3 separate regions of the Homo sapiens genome follow, and regions 1 and 3 are each reported to be linked to region 2. The links are microRNA targets in miRTarBase. Many come from high-throughput screens and were not tested one by one. Region 2 holds a microRNA gene; each other region holds the end of a gene's coding sequence.
Evidence for each region. The annotated mature microRNA hsa-miR-198 reads GGUCCAGAGGGGAGAUAGGUUC and lies in region 2 at 4,681-4,702, shown strand. An mRNA with a match to its seed (bases 2 to 7 or 8) in the 3' UTR can be bound and repressed. Matches are read on the target gene's strand: a 7mer-m8 pairs with bases 2 to 8, a 7mer-A1 pairs with bases 2 to 7 and ends in A, and an 8mer does both.

Region 1: the mRNA of MAZ is a reported target of hsa-miR-198. Seed matches in the 3' UTR shown: 7mer-A1 at 2,473-2,479.
Region 3: miRTarBase lists NNAT as a target of hsa-miR-198. Seed matches in the 3' UTR shown: 8mer at 820-827.

The regions. Positions count from the first base shown.
Region 1 is chr16:29,809,842-29,812,951 of GRCh38, reverse strand. It overlaps MAZ (MYC associated zinc finger protein), which reads right to left. Exons shown (of 5, transcript NM_002383.4): 5 at 1,788-2,875. The coding sequence ends at 2,721. It overlaps PRRT2 (proline rich transmembrane protein 2), which reads right to left and starts at 759. Exons shown (of 4, transcript NM_145239.3): 1 at 629-759. MVP-DT (MVP divergent transcript) reads left to right here. Exons shown (of 4, transcript NR_186424.1): 3 at 2,779-2,917. RefSeq lists silencers at 757-906, 1,307-1,386.
Region 2 is chr3:120,392,014-120,400,404 of GRCh38, reverse strand. MIR198 (microRNA 198) reads left to right here and starts at 4,676; the gene lies at 4,676-4,737. It overlaps FSTL1 (follistatin like 1), which reads left to right. Exons shown (of 11, transcript NM_007085.5): 10 at 446-522; 11 at 3,409-8,112. The coding sequence ends at 3,453. It also overlaps the pseudogene BTNL12P. RefSeq lists an enhancer at 646-695 and a silencer at 786-905.
Region 3 is chr20:37,522,238-37,525,347 of GRCh38, forward strand. It overlaps NNAT (neuronatin), which reads left to right. Exons shown (of 3, transcript NM_005386.4): 2 at 121-201; 3 at 430-1,453. The coding sequence ends at 522. The region is part of intron 1 of BLCAP (BLCAP apoptosis inducing factor); the gene reads right to left. Among named protein-coding and RNA genes, the nearest start is that of NNAT, 2.5 kb to the left of the region's middle.

The sequences.
Region 1 (3,110 bases), not on the chromosome of region 2:
GAGGGCGCTCAGCACTGCAGGCCCAATTGGGCCACATTCCTGTCTCAGGGCCAGCCTTGCACTGCCTCTAGGGAGAGGAAGAAAAGTTGGGGTTTCCTTTGCCTTAGGGTGGGACATCCCTGCGGGAGGAGTGCTCTACTCAAAGTCTTCTGCTTGGAGAGCCCTGGGGAAGATTAACCCTTTTGTAAACAGGACCTTCTCCAGGGTCTCTCCCTGGGTCCATCCAACAAGATCCAGACTCTCAGATCCCAGCACCCCAAAATCAACGAGCTGTGCAAATAGCACTCCGACAGGCCGACTGGGCAGAGGACCCGACATTCGCATTCCACTCCCTCTGCATCCTCCCCTCCTCCCTGGGCTCCCAGGCGGTGCGGGTTTTCTTGCTGCGCGTTTAGGGCGAGGACGCTCCCGCCCCTTTCTGGGGGACCTGGTTATCTCCTTCGATCCCCTGTCAGCCCCTCTCCCGGGGCTTCCCTCGCCTTCGGTGGGCTGGCGCCTCCTCCCGATGGTTCAGCCCGCCCAGCACCACCACCAGCCCTCCAGACACCCGCATTCCCGTGCAGTCCGCCCGGCGTCAGCCGTCGGTCGGTCCACTCCTACCCGCAGCCTCAGTCTGCCCGGGTCTCACCTCGACGCCGGCCTCCGGACAGCTCCCGCTGCCGCTGCTGGCTTTTGCAGCAGCCGCAGCCCGGGAGGGAGCAAGTCAGCTAGGGAGGGAGGGAGGCGGCGGGTCTCCCTCTTCTCCTCTCCCGTGTGCTCATCCCCTCCTCTCCGGTCCCCTCCCCTACGCTCCGCCGCCGTCGCCGCCCCCGCCCCTCGCGAGCCTCCGGCCCCTCCCGCCAGCCCAAGGGAGCCACGCGTTACCCAGGCAACCGGCCCGGGGACCACTCGCGCCCCCTCCCTGCCCCTTCTCACGCGCGCCTCCAGGAGAGACGCCTCCTTCTTAAGTCCCCGGCCCCTCCCGCCAACGGTCACCGGGATTCCTGGAAGAGACGGGGATTTGGGGGAAACGGAGAGGGTTCTGCGAGGAGACGGGACCAGTGAGACAGGCAGGACCGGGTGGAGGCGTCTCTACGAGCAGGAGGGCAAGGAAGATGGGGCAAGACGCGGGGAGGCTGCAGAGGAGGAGCAGGGTGGGGTTTGGAGAGAATGGAGCCTGCAGAAAGGAGCGGCAGAAACTGGCGCTGGAAGGCTCAAAAAAGGGGCCCTGGAAAGGACGGAGCGGGGACAGGAAAGGGAATTCCAAGGGGCAGGAGGAGCTGGGCAGAGGAGCCCGTGTAAACACAGAGTGGCCCATGCCCAGGATGAGGGACAGGTGCAGCTTTCATTCTCTACCTCGCTGCTCCCAGTCCTAGGGCTCGGACTCCCCAGCCTTTCCGCAGCCGCATCCACCCACCATGGCCTCAGGGCCGTGACGCGCGTGGGGAGGGATGCGGCTGGGGGCTGAGCAGCGGCCATGAGTGTGGACGGGGGAGGGCGGCATTCCCGTCTGGCAGCTCTGTTTGGGTTTCTGACGGGGCCTCTTCAAACCTCCAGGGGCTATTCTGGGCCTGTCCGAGTTGGGAATTCCCCAGAGACCTGGAACTTGCTCTCCACAGCCACAGCCTTGGCCCCGCCCTGTATCTGTGCTGCCGCCAGTAAGGCTGCCCCTGGGGAGGGCGGAGCCAGAACCTCACAGCCTCACAGGGCAGAGCAAGGCTGGATTGACGGACACCAGGCCGAGAAGAAACCCTTGGGGTTGGCGGCAGTTCTTAGTGAGGGCAATTCATTCAATCCAGAGCCAGAAACAGGATTTTATTTAAAATTTATTGTAATGGGGTCCGCGCAAAAGGAAGGGGTGGAGGGTGGGGTACATGCAGGGGACACAGGAACACGATGACATGGCCAGGGCCACAACTTCTTCTGTCGTGGGGAAGAGGGATGAAAAGACAAGACCAGGGCTGGAGCTGGGGTGGAAGAGGGGAGGGGGACACTGGCTGCATTCCCCCGCCCCCAGGAAGCACCTCTAGGCCCTGGACCCCTCGCTCACCCTGGCCCCTAAGACTCCATCTCTTCTCTGCCTCTGGCCCTCCTGGCTCTTCCTCCTGCTCCCCTTGACTTTTTCCCCTGACAGATTCTCAAGTAGGACGATGTTCAGGGCCTGACCCCAACCCCCCATACCACCTTATGAAGGTACAACCTTTGCCGGCCCTGCTTCTGCCCCTCCTCAAACCTCACCGCTTTCCCTCTTTGGGACAGCTCTGATCCCCCTCCTTCCTCTCCTCCCTCCCCCTGGAAAAAAAAAAAAAAGGAAAAGAAAGCACCAACTCCCCGGGGAGGGGCTGCAGACAGCAGGGGGAGAGGACTGGAAGGAGAGAAGAGGACCGTCGAGGGAAGAGGCTCACAAGTCCCTGGGAAGACAGGGCATGGGCTTACAGAGAGGAGAGGGGGTACGGGCAGTGGCTGCTCGTGTCCTCTGCCACCCCTGCCCACTGTCCAGGGGACTTCAACACAACCGAGGGGACAGGTTTGTGTGGGGTCAGGTCTGACAGAAGAGGAGCAGGAGAAACAAATCGTTAAAACCTAGCGAATTCCCCTAAGAAAACATTTCTTCCTCCTTTCCTTCTGGAGGCTCCTTGGTTGGTAGGGAAATAGGAGTTGGTGGGAAAAGAGGGGGGAGAGGAGCTTGTACCAAGGGACTCTACTCCATTCTCCCCTCTCCCCCGCAACCAACTTGGAGCTCACCAGGGTTGGGAGGGAAGTGGCTGAGAGCTCACAGGCACCCCCTCCGCCCCCGAGAGGGAGCCCACAGCTGTGGGAGGGGCTGCTACTGCTGCCGCTGCTGCCGCTGCCGCCGCTGCCGCTGCCGCCGCCATTGGACAAACCTCACCAGTACCTGCACAGGAGAAACACCACGGATCACAGCGCGATCTGAATGGCAAGAGCCTTGCCCTCACCCCACACCTTCCCAGCCTGCTTCCCCTGGGACACAGCCGTTGCTCACTTCCTATCTGGACCCCAGAGGCCTCAGCCTGCATCCTCACCCAGACAGAGCAGTTCTCAAGGATCCTCCCTGTGCCCAGAAGTCTCCCTAGCCTGAGTGGTACATGGGCATCCCTCGCCTTCCTGAG
Region 2 (8,391 bases):
GTGTCCAGATCTCACCTCACATCAATTAAATCAGAATCTCTGAAGGTGGAACTAGACAGCTATCTTTTCAAATGTTCTCCAGGACATTTTGATGGTATATGAATGACTTGAGAGTCATTGTCTCAGAGAAATCTCCAGTGTCAGGATCCAAGTTTTCACCATAACTTTTTTTGTAGGGCCAGCTTCTGGCTGGGATGTGCTAAGCAGTTAAAGGAACAAAGGCCAGAGAGGAGTTGGGGTAGATTGCTTTGTTACAATGTGTTACCTTGGAGGTATCAATTACACAGGGCCCCTTCATGCCTTCATACTCAGAAAATGTGGGTAATTCACCTCTCCTTCCACAAGTTAAATGGGAGATGAATTGAGAGCCTCTAGGTAGATCTTGGCGGATTCCTCACTGGCTTACCACAGCTGCTACTGCTCTGAGCTTTGGTTCTTCTTGCAGGAAAGAATCAGAAGGGGGCCCAGACCCAGACAGAGGAGGAGATGACCAGATATGTCCAGGAGCTCCAAAAGCATCAGGTGAGTGGCAGCCTCCGTGCTGGTTCAGGTGTTGCTGTTGCCATCAGGCCCTATACCATTCAAACACTGCCCAGTGCCCCAGGAGACCAAGGAGGCTCTCTCTGCTCAATACAGTACATCTTGAGTGATACCCCATCACCTGTACTATCAAACTGTGATACAGACAGTTCCCTGATAAAGTCCTCACAGGGCCCAGTAGGTCTCAACACATATAGGTTACAGCTCGGTGAGTGGCTGCATAAGGCAAAATCAGGCAGGTGGTGATTTGCAAATGAGGTGGAAGTGGTTTGCAAATGAGCGTGGTTTAAGGAAGTGTGTATCCTGTCATGACCAGTGTCCAGACCCAAAGACTGTGAGCTCCTGAAAGCAGGCTCTGTAACTTGCTCATCATTGTACCCTTGCAGTCTCACAGGGCCTGGTATGTAGTCAGCACTCAGTGAGCATGAAAGCAGTGGATTTGGGCCACAGCAGAAAGGATTTAAGTTCAACATCAGTCTGGCTAGAAAATAGCCTGGGGTTAACAAAGAGTCTCCTTCCCAGAGACTCAAGAAGATAATAAGAATTTTGTTCAGGTTCTATGTCATTAAGTTAAAGGCTTCCTTGGGGAAAGGGTTCTTAGCAGAATAGTGATGCTCTGACATATTGTGGAACTGTTGAACTCCTGGCCCATCCTCCTACTGGCTTATTATGTAGTCTTAATACAGGATATTGCACCTTCCATTACCTGTCCGTAGACCGAATGTAGTAGTATTAGCCTTCTCTCTGACATAGAAGTTTTTAAGGAATATAATGGTCACAAGAACTGCTAAACTATTGATATGAAATATTTGACATGAGTAAACAGAACTATTACTATTAATAGTAATTGCCCATTTATTGATCATTCTTAATGTGCATTTTGTCATCATTGTCACTGATAGTATAGAAATCTCATGTCGGTTGTTTAAGCAGAAGCAAAAGCTTCTAGTCTTTTGCTTTTCAAATTTCACCAGTCTTGAGTCTCCAAATGAGTTCAATCCCATGAAAGAGAAAAAAACTTCATAGGAATTACTTTCGTCTAGAATATCAGACAGTACAGTTATCAGACAGTACAGAGTGAATTATAGTAGCTAATATGTTTAAGTTTCTGTGTTTGATGTGAGTCCCCTCAGAGCAGATGCTGAGGCAAGGATGCAAGTACACATAGTTTATTTGGGAAGCAATGCCAGGAAACACCAGAGGGAGATTTGGGAAATGAGTCCAGAAAGAGAAGGAAGTAATGAAGAGTGTGTATTCAGGCATGTTACCACTGTTAACAAGTGACTCTTAATCCTATTGGGGATCTCTGGGAATGGAATAACAGTGCCTGAGTGGGGATGAAGCTGGGCTGTTTCTACAAGAACTCCCATTAGCCATTGGCTGAGGGCTGCTACTGGGAAATGTTAATTCCCTGGCATTTGTGGCCTATCAGTGTGTGTGGACAGAGTGGGCTCCAGCAGCCAGAGAAAGGCCTCAGGCAGAGATGCAGGTGCTGGCAGTAGGTAGGAAGTCATGCCAGTGTACACCAAGACATTAAACACAAAGGGGCGATGGATGGAACACCAGTGTCTGCTAGATATCAGGCAATGTTGTCAGGTTTTAAAAATTTATTTCTTTAATTGAGATATGATTCATATACCATAAAATTCACCCCTTTAAAGTGTATATTCCTAAGATTGTCAATCATCTCACTACTATCTTAATTCCAGAACATTTTCATTATCCCAGAAAGAAATCCCATACCCATTAGAAGTAACCCTCCATTCTCATCTTCCTCCAGCCCTTTGCAGCCACTAATCTACTTTCTAACTATAAATTTGCCTGTTCTGGACATATTACAGTGGTATCATACAACAGTATAGCCTTTTCTGTCTTTGACTTAGCATAATGTTTTCAAGGTTCATTCTTACAGCATGAATCAGTACTTCTTTCCTATTTATGGCTGAGTAATATTCCATGATACGAATATACCACATGTTGTGTTATCCATTCATCATTTAATGGATATTTAGGTTGTTTCAATTTGGGGGCTCTGATAAATAAAGCTGTTAGGAACATTTTCGCACAAGTTTTTGTGTGGACACATGTTGTCAGCTCTCTTGGGTATTTACCTAGAAGTGGAATTGCTGGGTCATACGGTGACTCCATGTTTAACCTTTGGAGAAATGGCCAAACTGGTTTCCAAAGCTACTGCACCACTGTACATCTTCACCATAGAGTTCCAATTTCTTCACATACTCACCAACGGTTTTGTTATTGCTATTTTTTATTTTAGCTGTCCTAGCGGGTGTCAAGTGGTTTTGATTTGCATTTCCCGTGTGATTAATGATGTTGAGCATCTTCTTATGTCCTTATTGGCCATTTTGTGCCAGGCACTGTTGTAAGAGATGGTACTTTATTACTGTGGTTTTGCAGTTGAAGACATTGAGACACAGAAGATTTCATAATATGCCCAAGGTCACCCAAAAAGTAGCACAGCCATGGTTGAAGCTCAGGCAGTCTGCCTCCAGAACCTGTTGTACTTAACACTTCTTTGGACTTGTTGGATTAAGAACATCTTGTAGCATTTCCATTTAACATCATTTTCTTCATCCTTAAAATGGGAACCATAATGTCTGATCTGCTTGTTTCATAGGAGTCCAAATGGAGTCAGCTTAATTCAGTAAACAGCCCCTGCATGACCATGTCATGAATAGGCCATAGTTCTTGTTCTCAAATTGTTCATTGTCCGTGGAGGAGCCCGACAAGTAAACAACTAAAATTCAGCATAAGCTTGTAAATGCCAATGCTATATAGTCTTGAGGAACAGATAAATTCCAACAGTTGTTTAATATTTCCATGACGCCTATTTTCTCTTGCATCTCAAAGGAAACAGCTGAAAAGACCAAGAGAGTGAGCACCAAAGAGATCTAATGAGGAGGCACAGACCAGTGTCTGGATCCCAGCATCTTCTCCACTTCAGCGCTGAGTTCAGTATACACAAGTGTCTGCTACAGTCGCCAAATCACCAGTATTTGCTTATATAGCAATGAGTTTTATTTTGTTTATTTGTTTTGCAATAAAGGATATGAAGGTGGCTGGCTAGGAAGGGAAGGGCCACAGCCTTCATTTCTAGGAGTGCTTTAAGAGAAACTGTAAATGGTGCTCTGGGGCTGGAGGCTAGTAAGGAAACTGCATCACGATTGAAAGAGGAACAGACCCAAATCTGAACCTCTTTTGAGTTTACTGCATCTGTCAGCAGGCTGCAGGGAGTGCACACGATGCCAGAGAGAACTTAGCAGGGTGTCCCCGGAGGAGAGGTTTGGGAAGCTCCACGGAGAGGAACGCTCTCTGCTTCCAGCCTCTTTCCATTGCCGTCAGCATGACAGACCTCCAGCATCCACGCATCTCTTGGTCCCAATAACTGCCTCTAGATACATAGCCATACTGCTAGTTAACCCAGTGTCCCTCAGACTTGGATGGAGTTTCTGGGAGGGTACACCCAAATGATGCAGATACTTGTATACTTTGAGCCCCTTAGCGACCTAACCAAATTTTAAAAATACTTTTTACCAAAGGTGCTATTTCTCTGTAAAACACTTTTTTTTGGCAAGTTGACTTTATTCTTCAATTATTATCATTATATTATTGTTTTTTAATATTTTATTTTCTTGACTAGGTATTAAGCTTTTGTAATTATTTTTCAGTAGTCCCACCACTTCATAGGTGGAAGGAGTTTGGGGTTCTTCCTGGTGCAGGGGCTGAAATAACCCAGATGCCCCCACCCTGCCACATACTAGATGCAGCCCATAGTTGGCCCCCCTAGCTTCCAGCAGTCCACTATCTGCCAGAGGAGCAAGGGTGCCTTAGACCGAAGCCAGGGGAAGAAGCATCTTCATAAAAAACTTTCAAGATCCAAACATTAATTTGTTTTTATTTATTCTGAGAAGTTGAGGCAAATCAGTATTCCCAAGGATGGCGACAAGGGCAGCCAAGCAGGGCTTAGGATATCCCAGCCTACCAATATGCTCATTCGACTAACTAGGAGGGTGAGTTGGCCCTGTCTCTTCTTTTTTCTGGACCTCAGTTTCCTCAGTGAGCTGGTAAGAATGCACTAACCTTTTGATTTGATAAGTTATAAATTCTGTGGTTCTGATCATTGGTCCAGAGGGGAGATAGGTTCCTGTGATTTTTCCTTCTTCTCTATAGAATAAATGAAATCTTGTTACTAGAACAAGAAATGTCAGATGGCCAAAAACAAGATGACCAGATTTGATCTCAGCCTGATGACCCTACAGGTCGTGCTATGATATGGAGTCCTCATGGGTAAAGCAGGAAGAGAGTGGGAAAGAGAACCACCCCACTCTGTCTTCATATTTGCATTTCATGTTTAACCTCCGGCTGGAAATAGAAAGCATTCCCTTAGAGATGAGGATAAAAGAAAGTTTCAGATTCAACAGGGGGAAGAAAATGGAGATTTAATCCTAAAACTGTGACTTGGGGAGGTCAGTCATTTACAGTTAGTCCTGTGTCTTTCGACTTCTGTGATTATTAACCCCACTCACTACCCTGTTTCAGATGCATTTGGAATACCAAAGATTAAATCCTTGACATAAGATCTCATTTGCAGAAAGCAGATTAAAGACCATCAGAAGGAAATTATTTAGGTTGTAATGCACAGGCAACTGTGAGAAACTGTTGTGCCAAAAATAGAATTCCTTCTAGTTTTTCTTGTTCTCATTTGAAAGGAGAAAATTCCACTTTGTTTAGCATTTCAAGCTTTTATGTATCCATCCCATCTAAAAACTCTTCAAACTCCACTTGTTCAGTCTGAAATGCAGCTCCCTGTCCAAGTGCCTTGGAGAACTCACAGCAGCACGCCTTAATCAAAGGTTTTACCAGCCCTTGGACACTATGGGAGGAGGGCAAGAGTACACCAATTTGTTAAAAGCAAGAAACCACAGTGTCTCTTCACTAGTCATTTAGAACATGGTTATCATCCAAGACTACTCTACCCTGCAACATTGAACTCCCAAGAGCAAATCCACATTCCTCTTGAGTTCTGCAGCTTCTGTGTAAATAGGGCAGCTGTCGTCTATGCCGTAGAATCACATGATCTGAGGACCATTCATGGAAGCTGCTAAATAGCCTAGTCTGGGGAGTCTTCCATAAAGTTTTGCATGGAGCAAACAAACAGGATTAAACTAGGTTTGGTTCCTTCAGCCCTCTAAAAGCATAGGGCTTAGCCTGCAGGCTTCCTTGGGCTTTCTCTGTGTGTGTAGTTTTGTAAACACTATAGCATCTGTTAAGATCCAGTGTCCATGGAAACATTCCCACATGCCGTGACTCTGGACTATATCAGTTTTTGGAAAGCAGGGTTCCTCTGCCTGCTAACAAGCCCACGTGGACCAGTCTGAATGTCTTTCCTTTACACCTATGTTTTTAAGTAGTCAAACTTCAAGAAACAATCTAAACAAGTTTCTGTTGCATATGTGTTTGTGAACTTGTATTTGTATTTAGTAGGCTTCTATATTGCATTTAACTTGTTTTTGTAACTCCTGATTCTTCCTTTTCGGATACTATTGATGAATAAAGAAATTAAAGTGATGGTTTTATTGGTTTCCTTTCCCCCAATTAAGGCCAAATAAAGTCGTGAGAACATTACCCATTTACTTCCTAAGAGTGGATTTGAGTTTCAGGAGCCTTAAAAAGGACTGAAGAGTTTCTCCTGGGACTACAGCTTGGATGGAAAGTTTACTCGGGGACTGGTAGAACAAGTTTCTTTGAAAGGATCATGGATAGTGGGTCTGGAGTAGAAGGTGATGACAAGTCAGAAAGTGTCTTAGTCCCTTCAAGTTGCTATAACAAAATGCCTCAGACTGGGTAATTATAGGCAACAGAAATGTATTGCTCACAGTTCTGAAGGCTGGGAAGCCTAAGATCAAGGTACCAGCAGATTCAGTGTCTGATGACGGCTTGTTGAAGCTTGCCTGCTTCAAAGAATGCACCTTTTTGATGCATCCCCACATGGTGAAAAGGGTGAACAAACTCCCTTAGGCCTCTTTTATAAGGGCACTTACCCATTCATGAGGGTTAAACTTTGATGACCTAATCATCTCCCAAGAGCCTCACCTCTCAATACCATTGCTTTGGGGATTCAATTTTAACATATGAATTTTGGGGGACATAAACATTCAAACCATAGCAGGTGCATTCCTGTATTGGGAAGACATTAAATTAAATGACTCGTAAATCCCCCATATGATTTAGGAGACTAAATGGCATCCAGTGAGGCTGACTGCAGTAGCCTGTGAGAAGGCAAATAAACATGGGAAGGTAGTACAGGGAACATGGAATCATTGCCAGGGACAGGCTAAATAACCTTAATGGCACTTCCTTGATACACACATTCCATGGGGGTAAACAGTTCCAAGTGGGCTGAACGTTAGCTGGTTAAAACCTCTTTTGCTTGGGGACACATGACTAACGCTTTCCAACCTGCCATTTTCATATGTATCATGCACTCTCCACCCACAATAATTCTGCCTCCCAAAAGAGCATATTATAGTCAATGAGGTTTAAGGTTTCTTCGGTTCAGTCATGTGGAAGTTTTGCTTTCCTAAAATTATAGCTGGATCACTTTGATTGGATTTGGGATATTACCCAAATGCTAATCAAATATTAAAAGGCAATCTTTTTTGTTATGTGATTGCTACAGATTACTGCTCTTACAGTTTGATTCTTCAAATTTTCATTCTCAGAAGGGAATCTTAAACCCAGTTTGAAGGGTACCTTGTCCACAACCACTTTTAAATTTTGGCTAACTTCCCAACCTTCCACCATGTTCTGGGAAAACTTTTTCTGCTGTTATAGTATGTATGTATTCAGGAAGTGCAACATTATTAAACTAAGCATAATTCAGAAGCTAAGTTTCCTTTCATCAAAATTTAATATTACGAATTGTGCAAAGAAGTATGTTACTTTGATCAGCTTTATTTTAGAGCTTCTTTATCAAGTTATCATCAGTCCTCTTGAATTATTTCTGAAATAAGGGGAAGGAAGGAAGGGAAAAAATATGAATGCATAGATAGATCTAAGCAGATGCCTTCAGAGCCCTGGAATAATCCTAGCTGGGATATGGGACATGAAAACAACTCTGGCCTACTGCTGCTGGGGGCTGTTGCATGGTGTGACATAGGAAGTAAAATGTTGCTGTATGAATAGGAAGGAGGGTCTTCCTGTCAATGAGAATTAATGTTTTCCTAATGATTTAACTTTTTTACTGAAAAAATAATATGTGTACATGGTAAAAATCCAAATTGTATCACAGAAAATACAGTGAATAAAACCATCCTCTTAAGAGGGTGTGTACATTTATAAATTTGCCTATGATTGCCTATAAAGTCAAAGAAGTTGCACCAGTATGCATGACTGCCAAAAGTACATAAACTGAGCATATCCATTTCCCTACATTCTTGCAAACATTGTGCCTTCGAACTTTTTGGCCTCTGATAGAGGAAAAATGGTAACTCCTTGTTTTATTTTTTATATTCATTATTCCTTTTGTAAGATTAAATATCATCTCATGAATAATTGGTTCTTGTCATTTTCTTCATTTTCTTTGTTTTTCTAATGGTTGCTGGTCTTTTTCTTACTGGTTTGTCATAGTTCTCCATAAGTATATCGTTAGCCCTTTGTTGTGAATGTGGCAAATACTTTCTCAGTTTGTTTTTCTTCTTTTGACTTTATGAGATGCTTTGCCTTGTAGAAAACTCGACTCTTTATATAACCCGATTTATACATCTTTTCCTTTCTGTCTTTAAGACAAAAGAACTTTAAAATCTGTGTCATTGTTGAAACTTAAGGACAGAA
Region 3 (3,110 bases), not on the chromosome of region 2:
AGAGATAAATCAGAAGAAAGCGCTTTGCCCATAAAATCATTTACCCTAAAAGCTCCCTTTGCAGGAAGAATTCCCTGCTAAAGGAATCCTTTGCCAAAGGAATCGCATATTTCCTTCAAGGTGTTCCTGGAATGCTGCATTTACTGGGTAGGATTCGCTTTTCGAAATCCTCCAGGGACACAGCCCATTGCGAGAAGTGAGGTATACCTAAGTTGTGGGTCCAATCAGCTTGCCGCCATGCAGCTCTCAGCACAGTTGGAAAAGCTCCAGCTGCCCTGACTCGTGGACAAGCTGCGCCCGCGCCCGCCTCTCCAGCCTACGCTGGATGGGCGGGCGGGGCAGGGGGTGGGGCGGGGGTGGGCACGGCAGCACCACAGACATGCTGTGGGTGCTCTCCACTAAGGGTGGGTCCTGGGTTTCTCGTCGCAGGTGTTCAGGTACTCCCTGCAGAAGCTGGCATACACGGTGTCGCGGACCGGGCGGCAGGTGTTGGGGGAGCGCAGGCAGCGAGCCCCCAACTGAGGCCCCAGCTCCCAGCCCTGGGCGGCCGTATCATCAGGTGCTCCTGTGCATCTCGGCCAGCACGGGAGCCAGTGCCGCGCAGGAATGTGGGGTCCCCTGTGTTCCCTCGCCAGAGGAGCACTTGGCAAGGTCAGTGAGGGGCCAGTAGACCCCCGGAGAAGCAGTACCGACAATGACGAAGATACCAGATCCCTTCCCAACCCCTTTGCACCGGTCCCACTAAGGGGCAGGGTCGAGAGAGGAGGGGGGATAGGGGGAGCAGACCCCTGAGATCTGGGCATAGGCACCGCATTCTGATCTGGACAAAGTCGGGACAGCACCATCCCAGCCCCGAAGCCAGGGCCATGCCAGCAGGCCCCACCATGGAAATCAAAACACCGCACCAGCCAGCAGAATGGACATTCTGACATCGCCAGCCGACGCCCTGAATCTTGGTGCAGCACCAACCGCGTGCCTGTGTGGCGGGACTGGAGGGCACAGTTGAGGAAGGAGGGTGGTTAAGAAATACAGTGGGGCCCTCTCGCTGTCCCTTGCCCAGGGCACTTGCATTCCAGCCTCGCTGCATTTGCTCTCTCGATTCCCCTTTCCTCCTCACTGCCTCCCAAGCCCACCCTACTCCAAAATAATGTGTCACTTGATTTGGAACTATTCAAGCAGTAAAAGTAAATGAATCCCACCTTTACTAAAACACTTTCTCTGAACCCCCCTTGCCCCTCACTGATCTTGCTTTTCCCTGGTCTCATGCAGTTGTGGTCAATATTGTGGTAATCGCTAATTGTACTGATTGTTTAAGTGTGCATTAGTTGTGTCTCCCCAGCTAGATTGTAAGCTCCTGGAGGACAGGGACCACCTCTACAAAAAATAAAAAAAGTACCTCCCCTGTCTCGCACAGTGTCCCAGGACCCTGCGGTGCAGTAGAGGCGCACCAAAACTTTGTCTCTTGTGATTTCTTTAGCGGCATCAACATACACTTCTAAGACTCAGCTGATGTGCCCACTGTGGAACAGGCACACTGCTTGGGGGAGGGAGGAAAAGGAGGGCCATCAAAATTGCAATAAGCTGGGCCCCTCACACACCCAACCCCATCTCAATGCTGTCCTGTGATAAAGGACCATCTCCCCCTCTCCCCAAAGAGAAAGGCTGACATCTTCACTTGTGGTCCTGGAATAAGGGACCACTTCCCCCTCCCCAAAGGGATAGGTGCTTTACTTGTGGTCTTAGGATAAGGGGCCAAAGCAAGTATCACTTTGGGAAAGATGAGAGGAGGGGAAAAAGGTGGGAGTAGCCCTCCAAAGAGGTACTAGGGACCAAGGGGGTGATTTCAGAACACAAAGCCTTACTTCAGGTCTCCATCCAGGAGCCCCAAAGAAATGAGTAGTGGGCAGGGTGGACAGTGGCTTAGACAATGAGTATGGGATAAGAGGTGCAGCGTGGCGCCTTCTTCACCCAGCTTAATGCTGCAGGCCCCACATCCACCAGGACCACTACAAAGACAATCTGCCTGGCCTTGCTACTCTGCAGGGTCTCCTGGCCCCACCTCACCCCAGAAACCTCTCTCCCCAATACTGGGTTTCTGCTTTTCCCAGCACCAGCCTCCGTATTCTTAGGAATGCTTACCAGGTCCGTGGCCCTGGGCTCTCCCCTGCCATCACGTCAGGGTGGGCAGTGCTCGGCCTCGGACTTGTCTTCCTCTCCCACTCCCCAGTGAGTCAGGGCTCTTTCTACACGGGGTCAGCTGACTGTCTCACCAAATGGCCCTGCCGCCTGTTCAGCCTTGTCTCTGGCTTTATGTGTCCCTGTCACTACACACCTGTTGCTGGGTCAACACCAAGGGAGGGAGTTGGAGGGCCATAAATCTCTCTTCCTGCCACTTCTTCGAATCCCTTAGTCACAGCTGTCACAAATACTTCTGAAGCACAAAGTACCTTGCCCCCTTAAGCCTGATCATGTTTCCCTCCCCTAAGCAAGCCCTTAAGTTTCTTAGCCCAATCACCAGCACCTCTAAAGGCATCTAAAACTTCATTCGGTATCAGAGAATTATAGGGGTGGGGAGGTGCAGATCCCGGTTCTGGTCTTGACTTTGCCATCAATCAGCCTAGGGAACCTGGACATGTCACCTTGTACCCTTCATCTCCAGTTTCCCTCTCGAAGAGGGCCTTTGAGATGCCAGTGAACCCTAACACGCTAGAAACTGCCATAGCAGTGGCAATCAGGACTCATCAGGACTTGAAGAGGATGTGCAATCTGAGACTTCATCTTTCTTAGGCTGGGTGGCTATAGCTGCTACCATAGCCTGAAGGTGAGGCAGGTCTCCTCTCGCCCCAGTGTGACTCATCAGCAGGCAATGCCCACACCTCCTCCCTTCTGAACCCCATATCTTGGCAGGCCTCAAAACTGGGAGTTTCTGTGGTTTTCCACACTAAACCCACAGAATCATGAACATACCAACATGTGTTCTCCATGAAGGCTGACCCTCCCTTCGGAGCTTTTGAGGGGTATGCCCATAGCCCCACTGCCCTTCTTGATGCTCTAACCTCAGCCCAAGTGACAAGGTAGCAGATTTCAGGGAGGTAGGCCAAAGCAGCATG